Linked DNA regions of Homo sapiens. The protein of the gene in region 2 interacts with the protein of the main gene of each other region in a pairwise test. Each region holds a gene or a part of one and is shown on either strand. Other genes may lie near its edges.

Region 1 (7,040 bases), on a different chromosome or scaffold from region 2:
ATTTCTGACCTGTAACTGCATTCTGATTCTATTTATTTAACAAACTCCTTGCACACACACATCCTCTACCACATTCTACATAAAATCTGAGATGGTTCTATTAGTTTTAAATGAGTATCTTAAGGATTTTCACTTAAGTGCTAAGTTTCAAATATTAATCATGAGTAATGAATGGCTCAAAGACTACCTCCAATATAAACCTCAGGGCATTTTTTTTTTTTAATCCATTCAGGAGACACCAGCCACGACAAAGCTGGACTTCATCTTGCTTGATAGGCAGTGATAGGGCCATAATTTAGATTCACGGTTCCAAAGTTCATGGCAGCAAAAATCAAACACACTGGCAGCCATGGCATACAGTGCTTACAGAGAAGGGCTTATCTCCTGAACCTAAGAGTGGAAAGGATAATTTAAGTATAGCATTTAGTTTATACAATATAACTGGAGTTCCTTCCCCACAACAAACTTTGAATAATGTTTATAATTTAGCAATCAACTGAAATGAAAGAATTACCACAATTGAAATAAAATATTTATGTATTTCAAACCAATAGAACTGTGTCTTCAAAAACTAAAACAAGCTAAAAGAAACCTAGTTCTGAATTAGTGATGGATACAAATAAAATGGGGGTTTGTTTATTCAAGTCTTTGAGCTGCTTTTCTTTTTTTAAAAGATTTCATGAACTTTCATTTGAAATAAGCACAGTTTACCAAATTAAAGGACTTGATTAAGTATTCTTTAAAAGTAACTAGCTGGGTAAACAATAAAGTAAGTTATCCAAGAGTCAAGAAAAGAAAAATGACTTCAGACTGCTTTATGAATATTCTCCAAAATCACCAATCCTTCAACAAAAATAGTTCAACGGAAGATTTCAGTTCCTGGTACTGAACTGAACAAAGAGAACCACATGTTTTTAATGGTTGCTCATAAACGACCCAAATAAATCTCCAAAAGAACAGGAGTGGCTCTTTCTGTATTTTTCCCTTTAAAATTCATAAGACCAATTCAACACAGAAATAAAAATTACTGTACTTTATGGCACCACTCACTGTGTGACACATTTATTTGCTGTCATGAAAGTTAGTACCTCAACAAAGTAAATGAGATTTAGGGAGAAAAAAATTTTCTACCATTTAAAAAAGCACAAAATGTTCTTGCCATTTGCGGCAAAAAGAGTTTACCCACCTCAAATGAGAAGATTTTCATACTAAGTAAGAAACCTAAGTATTTATATATAAATAATACAAAGAAGCTTTCCAAATAGCTTTTCAATCAGTGATGATGCTGATATTAGATCACAATTACACTGCTAACTACCATTTATAAGAAATGAAGCCTACACAACAAAAAAATGTAACTTACAATTTAACCACTGATGTTCTATTTTCCCTGGCTTTAACACTGAACCACAACACAGAGCAACAGCACACCCTGCTGGAAGTTGGTAATACAAATAATTAGCAGCACTGAACTAAGATTTTACCCAAGATGAGAATTACTTCAGAACCAGTCATTTCTCACTGAGAAAAAAAGAGGTTCACAGGCATTAACCATCAGCTACCTATATATATGTGATCTTAATGGTTAAATTAAAACTCAGAATAACTCAAATTAAAAGATACTGCTTTTTCCTGCTCATTTCCTCAGCCCCATACAGCCCCAACCACCCCAAGTGATTTTACTACTTCTGGCTTTAACCCTAAATAAAAATATTTTCAAATGCACTTTTTGTAAAGAGAAACTGGTAATCACATAAAAGAGGAAACCAAGACGATTTTCTGTATATGACTGCCTGAAGTACCCCTTCTCTCCCATCCCACCTTGGCCTTAGAAATGCCCCTAAAGATTACCATTAAAAATGCACAAGGCATAGCCGGGCATGGTGGCTCACGCCTGTAATCCCAGCACTTTGGGAGGCTGAGATGGGTGGATCACGAGGTCAAGAGATCAAGACCATCCTGGCCAACATGGTGAAACTCTGTCTCTACTAAAAATACAAAAATTAACTGGGCGTGGTGGGGCGTGCCTGTAGTCCCAGCTACTAGGGAGGCTGAGGCAGGAGAATCGCTTGAAACCAGGAGGTAGAGGTTGGAGTGAGCCAAGATTGCACCACTGCACTGCAGCCTGGCAACAGACTGAGACTAGGTCTCAAAAAAAAAAAAAAAGAATGCACAAGGCAGCCTGGTGGTCTGTGAACCACAATTTACATGCCATTGGCAAAATGCCTACACAGATTCTGGAATTCAAAATATGCAAACTATATTAAGAAACCACATGTCCTGAAACTGCATCTAGTATGTTTTCAACATTTTCACAGACATGAAAAATCATGGAAGCCACTAACTAGATAATCCAGCTCTGCCCTCCCTAACTCAAACTCACAGTAATCCAAGGATGAACAGAATTGTATTTAAGTTTTGTAAATGTACTCTCTTTGTTATAAAAAGAAAACTCCTCGTTACTGCTGAGATTCCTCTTCAGAGAAAACAGGCTATGCTAGCAATGACCTGCCTGTTCTGAGTGACTAGTATTGGCTTCTTGGCTCCTTGCTCCCACATCTAAAGGTTCTGATTGACCTCTGGTCAACTTGCAGGGCACTCTTTAGTCATGAAGGCCAACAATTCTTTAAAAAAAAAACAAAAACAAAACAAACAAAAAAAAACAATGAACAAGGCCAAGAAGATCCAACACTTAAGTGTAGTTTTCTCCAACAACTAAAAAGGCAATAAGCACCTCAGGTGTGTTTTTCTGACATTGTCTCCAGTGGCATTATTTAGTTCATTATCTCAATCAAAGTACATTTAAAATTAAAATTTTAAAAGGATACCAACCTCGAGCCTCTTTTCAAGTGATTCAATTCTGTCCTTTTTACTAGCCAGATTGGCCCGTGTGTAGCGGCTCTGCCCAGGAAGATATAAAACTTGACTGTAGCATTCTTCCCACACCTGGTTATAAGCTTCACTTGAGAGCTCTCCATGGCTCATTCCTTGTTTAACCACTTCCATCTCCTGCACCAAAACATCCTGGGCCTGTTTACAATAATAATTTCAATAAGTTTAAGTACTACAAACACTTGCCATATCCAGAGAGCTTTAGAAGACTAATTTTTTCCCTCATGCCTTGAGTCAAATCCAAGATGTGGTTGGTTGTTTTTTGGAAGGGTGGATAACAATACCTAGGAAAAATAGCTTAAGAAGCCTTTGAGTCAATGCAGACTGCTTTTTAAAAATCAAGCATCCATGTTTCCTCAAAAGTATAAACATCCTTTGCTTTCACTCACTATAACAGCAGCTATCATTTCTCAGGTACCTATTGTGTGTGTGAGAAACTAGGTTTAAAAGTTTTACCTACATTATATCCAAAGATCATAATCACCTTACAAATTAGCCAATATTAACCTCATTTAAAAGCTAATGAAATTTGGCCAGGCACGGTGGCTCCCTCCTATGATCCCAGCACTTCGGGAGGCTGAGGTGGGCGGATAACGAGGCCAGGAGTTCAAGACTAGCCTGGTTAACACAGCAAAACCTCGTGTCTACTAAAAATGTAAAAATTAGTAGGACGTAGTGGCACATGCCTGTAATCCTAGCTACTCAGGAGGCTGAGGCACAAGAATCCCTTGAACCCAGGAGGTGGAGGCTGCAGTGAGCTGGGATCGTGCCACTGCACCCCAGCCTGTGCAACAGAGTGAGACTCAGTCTCAAAAAAAAAAAAAAAAAAAAAAAAGCTAATGAAACTAAGGCTCATAGAGATTCAACCACTTGTTAAGACCACATCGTTAGTAGGCAGATGAGGCAGAATACAAATGGCACCACTGGGTGTGCCCCTTCCACTCTCCCACTCCACCATGTGTGCAGGACCTCACGTGATGGTAAAGGGGAGCTAGGCATCTTTTTGTCACATGGCATTTTTCTCATCCTGAAGGAATGCCCTGACATTGCCAGATAATGAGACTGGGGCACGAATTAGATGATAGATCATAAACCAGTTTAGTTCACTACTAAAGAAAATAGTGTAAAATGACAGAATGAGAGGGAAAGCTGGACAGGCCTGGGTTCAGATCACAGCTTTACCATTGAAGCAGCTCTTTGAGCTTGCTTAATTTATCTGAGCCCATTTCTCAGGGCTTTTTCAGCCTGGAAAGCTGAAAAACAGCTTTCCAAGCAATGATGATGCTGACCTTAGATCAGATGTGTTTGTTATTAGGATTAAGTGAACAATATACTATAGAGCCTAGCCCAATGCCAGACACACAGAATTCCATAAGCATATGAATTTTTTCCCAGCCCTTTGCTTCATGGCTTATGAAAAACTGGGAACCACCTTCTGTGCCTTACAGAAGGCTTTCAATCTTTCCAGTAATAATGAAAATAAACACATCAAAATCTACAAAATCAAGAGAAATGATTGATAAACAAAAAATTTTAACAAAAGAAACGGAAAATCATCTCTATAGAAGAAAAAATGGACACTTAATACCTTAAGGGAAATAATGGAAACAAATCAATGTTAACATATCTTAAAGTATATTAAAGAAAAAGAAAATCTGACAGTTTATTAAAAGAGAAATGCTATTTCACTCTGAAACTGCACAGAGTAAAAATTTACAAGTTCAGATCTTATAATCATTACGAGAGAATATGGCTAAGTTATCTTTAAACTATCCATAAATAATCTGCTAACTAAATAGCTGCTTCAAATTCTTTTTGGAACAAAGAGAGATATACACAGATAAAATATGAGAGAATATTTAAGCTACTTTGTTTCAAACAATTACAAACCAATACTTAGAATTATTATTTTTCAAAAATTGTGTTAGGGTTTACCCTCTACAGAATCTCCAAAAGCAACAATGTGATCCTTGTTTTAGGTTTCCATACATACAATTTAGGAAAATTTATTTCCTAAATTCCTCTTCCCCTCATATTTTCACTTTCAAAAGAGGAAACTGTGCAAGTATCAATTTCGTAGCCTGATTCTCAATCCCAGTTCAATGATTAAATGTGCTCGACAGAGTAGGCAACTCAACAGATGTTAGTTTCCCTACTGCACTTACTAAAAAATGAGTGACTCAGTTATTCTGAAATCAGGGACAAGTTATTGAAATATAAATCGAAACCCTCCTTCCTTTCTCTATTTTCTAAAAATCCTATAATAAATAATGTATTACTTATGCAATAAAGAAAACACAAAGTAAGAAATTGTGAAAAGCGAAGAAAGAGGAAGAATGCAGGAGAGAAGACAGGAGAGTTTGTAAGAATCTTGTTTGTTTTATCCTAAGTATACAGCAGCTCATTCCAAATCCATAGGTCTATCACTGCTCCTCAGGGCTGAAGGCTAAAGAAAAAAAGACTTTTAAGCTAATGACCACTCTGCTTCCAACGATGAGACCCACTGTATCTTCTTATACAATTATGGAGATTTCTATTTACAATCACAGTTGTTTGCTCTGTCAAAACAGAAGGAATAAAATGCATGTAGAAGAAAAGACCAGATACAGACTTCATATAAGAAATCATTTCTTCATGTCCTTATCCAAAAGAGTAGGGGGAAATCATGTGAGGGGAATATATTCAGTAAAAAAAATACTTCCTTCCTTTCAATAGCTAAAAGGTTTAATCTATAAACATTTTTATATTAGTCTCTCTCACCTCTTCATATTATTCTAAATAAGTGATGTTTAAGTACTAAAGGCATCTAATTTTTATTCAGAGATAGCAGAGCTGAATACAGAAAACGGCAACTGTAACAACTGTCAACGAAGCCATTAATACCCATGAACCAAAAACACCCTGGCGGTGTTTATTTGCTAAAGGTCTATCACACTGAACACGGGGGATGGAGGTATTTAAAGCATGTCCTTTTCATAACACTTAATCTAAACATGCATCTCCTAATCATACATTTCAGTTGTTTATGAATACCAACAGGGAAAAATAAGTTCATTATTTGTCCATGATACACAGCACCTAACAACTACCTAAATCTCAAGAAGAAATATTCCAGCTCAATCATACCTTTTTCAGCTCTTCTTTGGAGAACTTTTCATAAGGATTATGTTCCAGATAGGTAATGTGCTCTGAATTATTGGTACCAAACCCTACAGTTTTGCCTTTTTTATTTCCAGATGGTTCATAAGGGTGATGTAGAAGGTCATAATGAAGCATTGTGATCATTTCTTTTTTGATTAGTTCTTCACTTTTCTGTAAATCTGTTAAAGGCGGTTCTACATTTAAGGGTCTTAGAATAGTTTCATTTACCTAAAATTTTAAAACAAATACAATTACCAAACATATCACTATAATATATTAATGTTATTACCTGTTACAGCATGAATTAAACAGCGGTTTTACATTTTCAAAAGCAATTTCCATTTTTTTCCTTCTAAATTCTTTCTGGTACTACTGAAACATTTTAAAGATTGGATTTGAGAACTACTTTGCTATATTCCAGAAAGTAGATGAAATTTTGTTTTATAGTCTTTATGAATGATGTAAAACGCAGCAATCATATAAAAAGAAACTTAAAACTTCCTAAACCAGAAATTCTAACACTTACTTCTGATGGTCTTGGCAGATCTTTCTGGACAGCTTTATGCATTCGTTTCATTTCCTTTACACGCTCTGCATCTCGTATGGCCTAAAAAATGATTTTTATATCCTTTATTGCAGCTATAGCGTATTTGATATCTCTCAGTAAAGCTAAAAACACTTTGGTATGTAAGATCATGTGTGTTCAATAGCTAAAGTTTAGAAATCGGTTTAAGTTTGTAGAAAGGCAATGCTAAGGCAACAGAAATGAATCAGTCTATTCACTCTCATTATAATAGAAACTAAGAGCTTCCAATGTCTACTAGAGCATTCTCCAAACTTGCATGGATCCATATCACGTAACAAACTTTTCTCATCTAAATGGAAAACCTAAACTCCAAAGAGACTCCCACGACAAAACTCTTTCTTCCCTTTCACTCCAAAATTACTGACTTTTAACTCAAAAAGCCAGCCAAAAAATGTATTGTTTCCTGATTCTTATGAATAAT
Region 2 (7,040 bases):
AAATCATCCTACTTTTCATTTCTAGGTCCCTCCTTTCCTGTCTTCTCACTTCCCAAATATGTGTACTTGGGGGAATTCCATGCAACCCCACATCTGGATCCTCCCAACTCTGTTGTAAAAGCTGATATGAAAGCTTGGGGTCTGTCTAACATTCTGTCAACTGCCCCCATAACATAATTTCAAAAATACCCTCCTTGTCCCCCACCTGCCGTGGTCTGCACACCATTGTTCTGGGCCCTGGCCTTCTCAAGCAGAAACTCAACTTGTTATAAAAACTCAGAATGGCTCAGCAGGGGGATCTTGATTCAGGTCATCCACAGTGGACAGAACAGAACTTGCCAAGCTGGACTTTATGGATATTGGGAATCCTCAGAGCCTACAGTTTGTCCCATGACAAACCCTATGGGCCAGGCTTTCCTTTTTTTTCGAGACAGAATTTTGCTCTTATTGCCCAGGCTAGAGTGCAGTGGTGCAATCTCGGCTCACGGCAACCTCCGCCTTCCGGTTTCAAGCGATTCTCCTGCCTCAGCCTCCCAAGTCGCTGGGATTACGAGTGCCCGCCACTACGCCCAGATGATTTTTTTGTATTTTTAGTGGAGACAGGGTTTCACCATGTTAGTCAGGCTGGTCTCGAACTGCTGACCTTGTGATCCACCCGCCTCGGCCTCCCAAAGTGCTGGGATCACAGGCGTGAGCCGCCGCGCCCGGCTCAGGCTTTCCTCTTTTATGCTGTATACCATAATGAAGACATGTTTATTGAAAGGGTTTTAGTAAACTGTTTACTAAAAGGATTTTTAGTAAATATGTTTTAAATTTTTTAAACACAATGAAAACATGTTTACTAAAATTTTTTTACTAAATATGTTTTACATTTTGAAAAATTTTAGTAACCATGTTTAATGTATGTTTTAAATTTTTATGTATTGTATCATAGAGTGTTTGTAAATACATAAAGGTCCAAATGAAGACTATAGGGGTTAGTCGAGAGACCTCTGAGGGAGTGAGGCTTTATGACCCAGGGCCATTTGAAAATTAAGAAACAAATACAGTCGGAGTCGGTTTCCATATATTTGGTTAATCCCAAAAATACTAAGTGCTATCTAGTCTTATTGCTTATACTTTCCATTAATTTATCAATCTATAATCTTGGATGGGATGAGGTGGAGGGCGAATGAGGAAGTTGTCTTTGAAACCAATGGAAAAAAAAAGATGATGATTTTTAATTTTACATTTTCTCTGTGGGAATAAGTGTTTTTTATATGTTAAAGTTCAGGCTTAGTTTCCACCATTTCTTTTTCATTTAGATAGGTTTGTAGTTCTATTCATCCTTCATAAATTCTCTTCTTGCACTTCTGTACTACGTGATTTTAATTTTCTCTATCCCATTATAGGAGAGAAGCAACACCATTAAACCTGATTTGAACAAACACTTGAGTTACATTTTTAAAATCTTACTTGTATAATCGCAATTTTCAACACACATTCTAGAAAACTAAGGGTGGATCATGTACAAACACAAAAAACAAGCTCCCTCCCTCCAAAACAAATGAACAAAAATAAAGAAAGAAAACCCATGAAATGCCCAGGTTTAATTTTTTTTCCACCAGAGGGAAAAAGAGCAGTTAATAATAATCTTGTATGGAGAATATACACCAGAAAGCAGCATTGGCCTCAAAGTACAATTAGTCCTTTTAGTTCAGAGAACTATCAGCGGCTGCATGGTGACAGGTATTGCAATCTCAGTTACAACTTAATGCTCTGTTAGGGTGATGTATCAGGTTTTGTTCCATGGCTTTAAAAAGGACTTAGAACCAGGCCTTTAAAAGGCCTATATGGCTGCCTCCTTTTAGTAAGCACCCCTTAGCTTCAATAAGGAGTTAGAAATAAAGCCAGCCAACTTTCTGAAAGATGGTATTCTACAGCTGTAGAAGAAATCAGAAAGTGTTGGTACGTTGTTCATAGGAACTGTAGGAAAGGTTTTCATTTGCCCTTTTATATGAACCTCTTGTATTTGTTTACTTATTTCAAACCTGGTGTAGACACAAAAATATCCCCGCAGCTCATACTGTATTTGAATTTATTTCCTGGCAGGCTTTCTTTCCAGAATAATTCTGAGCTGCCAGTGAATTTGCGGGGAGCGTTTCATATACAGAAAGAACCTATCTTAATCAAATAACCTGCGATTGACAGAAAAAATTTTCTCATTCAAAAGGGCAACATTGCTTTCTCTTAATGCACAGGTTCTGGTAAAAGATTTCTATACAAGATCTATAAAATGCTCTAAAAAAACTTGTCATCTAATTGTGCTTAGTCAAAACAATGTAATGATTCGGTAAATAAATTACTGTCTTAACTGGAGCACTCAAAATTACTTGTGATTGATTTAATATATATATCTCTATATTAGAAAACTCTGAAACCTGAATGGGATATATTATACTGTATGTGGGTATCTATCCTATTAAGAAACTATATCTAAGTTATCTAAACCAGAATAGTTGATATACATGACATCTCCATTAAATAGAACTTCTTGCTTAAAATTTCAGCAAAGCCAGAGATCTTTTATACTCTTGTGAGCTTAAGGTTTGCCCAGTTAACCACTCATTTTGGAAGATACAGTTAAAATTTCGTAACAGCTAATATTGTTCTTATCTTTGCCCTTCTTCTGAACACTTCTGTGACCCTTTGCCTCTTTATTTCTTCAGAATGACCTTCTGAAAAGCCCCTTGATTTAGGGTGACTTTTACTGCTGCTCAGACCCTGAATAACCACTGACGAGGTTTAAGAGGTACATCTCTCAATTCAGAGAACTGCACGGAGTGAAATGATGAACAGAATTATTTACAGTCACATTCAGTCTTGCTTTGGTTCACACTGCACGTCTATGTGAAACCATAGGGGCTGGGAGATGGCTACGTCCCTTGGTTCACCCGGTTGACAATGTAGCTCTTGACATTGGGAATAGGCCGCACATCATTCTGGTGCTTGCGACGTTCTATGAAGCATGCTAGGCGGGAGGTGTCCAGGGGGATCTTAGAGTAGCTGCCATTATGGGGCTGCAGCCATGGATGCTGCAAGCATGTGGCTGCTGTGGGCCGCCTCCGAAAATCTTCCTGTAAGATCACATTGATGAAATCTCTGGCAGCATTGCTCACACCACAGAAGTATTCATGGGGGAAGCTGAAATCCACCCTGCATACGTTGATACATGTCTCCTCTTTGCTCTCATCCAAGAAGGGGGAGACCCCACTCAGCATGACATATGTCAGAACCCCGATGCTCCAGATGTCTGTCCCCAGGGAGACGGGGATGCCTTGAATGACTTCTGGGGCAGCAAACTCAGGGTTCCCCAGCAGGTGGTGAATGTGGAAGTGACCCGAGATCTGGACAGCATCCTCCAAGTCAATGAGCTTCACTCGAGGCACTGGAATCCGTAGGTCAATGAGCAGGTTTTCAGGCTGCAGAGATCCAAGGAAGCAGGGAGAAAAGAAGGGAAGTTTAGGCCTCTATTTTGACTACTCAAAATACCTCATTAATTCAAACACAGTTATGCTATTCTTTGATAAAGCCTATGGTGTACAGAAAATTCCCTATGCACTACGGAAACTGCATAGGATACTTCAAACTATCATTTTGAGCTTACTACACTTTGAGTTTGGGTGGTAATTCAGAGAAGTTGTTTGACATTGAAAATCATGTTTTCTTAACTACACTGCTTCTGCATTGAATCAAGGAAATAATAAATTACTCATTTTGGTGAACAGGGGCTTCTTTTTGAGAAGCATGGAAGAGAAGGTGACGTTTGTTGGCTTACTTCTATGAAGTTAGATTAGGTAGGTAGAACTTCCCTACCTTCTCTCACACCAGATGTCATTGTGGCTCTGGCATATTCTCATTAATTCATGGATGATACACTTAAATTGTGTGACAGCCCAGATTCTCTTTAATAGTCATAATGGGGAGGCCGGGCACGGTGGCTCACACCTATAATCCCAGCACTTTGGGTGGCCAAGGCGGGTGGATCGCAAGGTCAGGAGTTCGAGACCATCCTAGCCAAGATGTTGAAACCCCATCTCTACTAAAAATACAAAAAAATTAGCCAGGCATGGTGGTGGGCGCCTGTAATCCCAGCTACTCAAGAGGCTGAGGCAGAGAATTGCTTGAACCTGGGAGGTAGAGGTTGCAGTGAGCTGAGATCATGCCACTGTACTCCAGCCTGGGTGACAGAGCGAGACTCCATCTCAAAAAAAAAAAAAAAAATAGTCATAATGGGATGGATGTGTTGGCTCACGCCTGTAATCCCAGCACTTTGGGAGGCCAAGGCGGGCAGATCACTTGAGGTCAGGAGTTCAAGACCAGCCTGGCCAACATGATGAAACCCTGTCTCTACTAAAAATACAAAAATTAGCTGGGCATGGTGGTGAGCGCCTGTAATCCCAGCTACTTGGGAGGCTAAGGCAGGAGAATCGCTGGTACCTGGGAGGCGGAGGTTGCAGCGAGCCGAGATCGCACCACTGCACTTCAGCCTCGGCAACAGAGTCAGACTCTGTCTCAAATAAAAAAAAGTTATAATATTCTACTCTAAGTAAATAAAATGAATTTGAATTTATATTCCTTATGAGTAATGACTGGTAAGTTGGACTTGGCCATTTAAGGTATTCCCTGCAAGGTTGCCACTTCTTTTTTTTGAAGGGAGTCTCGCTCTGTCGCCCAGGCTACAGTGCAGTGGCGCGATCTCGGCTCACTGCAAGCTCCGCCTCCCAGGTTCATGCCATTCTCCTGCCTCAGCCTTCCAAGTTGCTGGGACTACAGGTGCCCACCACCACTCCTGGCTAATTTTTTTGTATTTTTTGTATTTTTAGTAGAGACGGGGTTTCACCGTGTCAGCCAGGATGGTCTCGATCTCCTGACCTTGTGATCCGCCCACCTTGGCCTCCCAAAGTGCTGGGATTTCAGGCGTGAGCCACTGCGCCCAGCAGGTTGCCACTTCTTATTACCTTTATGTCCAAATGTGCAACCCTGCAGTTGTGAAGGTACTGCAGAGCCTCCATGATGTCTCGGATATAGAAAGCTACTTTTTCCTCCATCAGTTCATCATGATTCATAAGGTAGTCTAAGAGCCGGCCATCATCCATCCTGAAAGTAGGCAGGGAAAGGCAAAGGAAATATGTTTGAAATGAAGAAATAGAAAAATAACACATGTACAAATCAGTAAGATCTCTAAACTCTCTCATACTTATTGTTATACATGAAGACCAAATGTGCAACACATGCATATTTAGTTAGAGCCTAAAGTTATTGTAATATTCAGAACTAAAATAAATATATTTACAAATATGGTATACTGCAGGGAGTGTGTATAACCTTGTTTAAGAAACATTCTCCTTCATTAACTCTAAAAATTGCTCACAAGAAAAAAGTTGTGACACCCATTTAAGAGGTTTGATTGCTAAGTAAAGAAAGCCTTCACCAAGAGAGACTTCAGCAATATCCTGATTAACCATAACCTAGTGGCTGCAAACAGCCCCACATGTGTTTTGCAAAGTACTTCTTAATTTTATTTTAAGATTAATTTTAGAGATGAAGTCTCACTGTGTCGCCCAGGCTGGAATGCTGTGGCACAATCATAGCTCACTGCAGCCTCGAACTCCTGGACTCAAGTGATCCTCTTGCTTTAGCCCCTCACATAGCTGGGATTTCTGGAGGAGGCCACTGTGCCTAGCCAAACTACTTTCATTTGTCAGTTTTAAGTTGGGGAAAACAGAAAGTAGGCAAAGTTTGTTCTTTGCATTATTGATTCTCTGTCCCTCCCCTACCCCACCACCTTTTTTTTGTTGTTGTTGTTTGTTTGTTTTGTTTTTGAGACAAAGTCTCTCTTTCACCCAGGCTGGAGTGTAGTGGCATGATCTCAGCTCACTGCAACCTCCGCCTCCCAGGTTCAAGCGATTCTGGTGTCTCAGCTTCCCAAGTAGCTGGAATTACAGGCGTGTGCCATCACACTCAGCTAATTTTTGTATTGTTAGTAGAGACAGAGTTTTGCCATGTTGGCCAGGCTGGTCTCAAACTCCTGGTCTCAAGTGATCCACCCGCCTGGGCCTCCCAAAACGGTGGGATTACAAACATGAGCCAGCGTGCCCGGCTCTTGATCCCTTTTTGAATCCTTTGCCTTCTGGGCAACTTTTCCAACCTTGAGAACTGTGATTGAGAACATGGTATATGGAGCCATCCAGACCCAGATTCGAATCCTGGTTCTGTTACCTACCTGCTGAAGGCTGGGAGCAAGTCATTTGAACTCTGTGTTTTGGTTTCACCAAAGTGAACCATCTTTAAAGTGGGAATAAGAACAGCAACAAAATAATAACAATTATTATTCATTATATTAATATAATATAATGAATTAATATTATCATATAGTGGGTGAATATTACTGTTCACCTATTTGATTATGAGGATTGTGCAAGGATGGAGTGAGATGATGAAGCATTTAAGCATAATTGGTAGCATAGGTAAGTGCTAAATAAATGGTAACTATTCTCAGCCACCCTCTGTCCTCTTACAGCAAGGAGTTACCAAATGTCAGGTATTCTTTAGTGTACATTGAGTTGTTAAAGGCACATGCCCAGGAAATGCCCATGCAGAGGAGCCTGATGCAGGGTCAGAAATGACTTTCAGTTACAGCTGAAATCCCCCTGGTCAAGTTTACCTCTTCCCCTCTAGCTTGCTCCTTCCCACTGGTGTCTTCTACTTTCCCTGACAGGAGCAAAGGCTAGAACCCATGCAAGCCTCTTTTGCTTTCCTCTGACCCTGCTAAGGGTGAGGTAAGAGTGATCAGAGTAGAGTGGAGTAGGATTGGGCTTGTTAAATGTATTCCCCTGAACTTCTTGGAGTCATTAAGGGAGCAATTAACAGCAGCACTGCTCCAAGTGAGAGAGTCTTAGCCACCAAGTTCACCTTTAGAGCTTTTGGATAAGGCAGATGCCCACATCCTACCCTAGACTAGGGAATCCAAATCTCAGTTGCCTGGTAAAGAAAGGCTC

The links. The genes of interacting proteins can lie anywhere in the genome.
Region 1: the proteins of KALRN (region 2) and CDC5L interact in a two-hybrid assay, tested with the Homo sapiens proteins (2 studies listed by BioGRID and IntAct).

The regions. Positions count from the first base shown.
Region 1 is NC_000006.12:44,425,703-44,432,742, reverse strand, and holds part of CDC5L (cell division cycle 5-like protein), read right to left. Parts: intron 6,641-7,040; coding exon 6,560-6,640; intron 6,262-6,559; coding exon 6,019-6,261; intron 3,031-6,018; coding exon 2,833-3,030; intron 1-2,832.
Region 2 is NC_000003.12:124,715,346-124,722,385, reverse strand, and holds part of KALRN (kalirin), read right to left. Parts: intron 5,140-7,040; coding exon 5,001-5,139; intron 3,462-5,000; coding exon 2,916-3,461; 3' UTR 1-2,915. UniProt on the Homo sapiens protein: Promotes the exchange of GDP by GTP. Activates specific Rho GTPase family members, thereby inducing various signaling mechanisms that regulate neuronal shape, growth, and plasticity, through their effects on the actin cytoskeleton.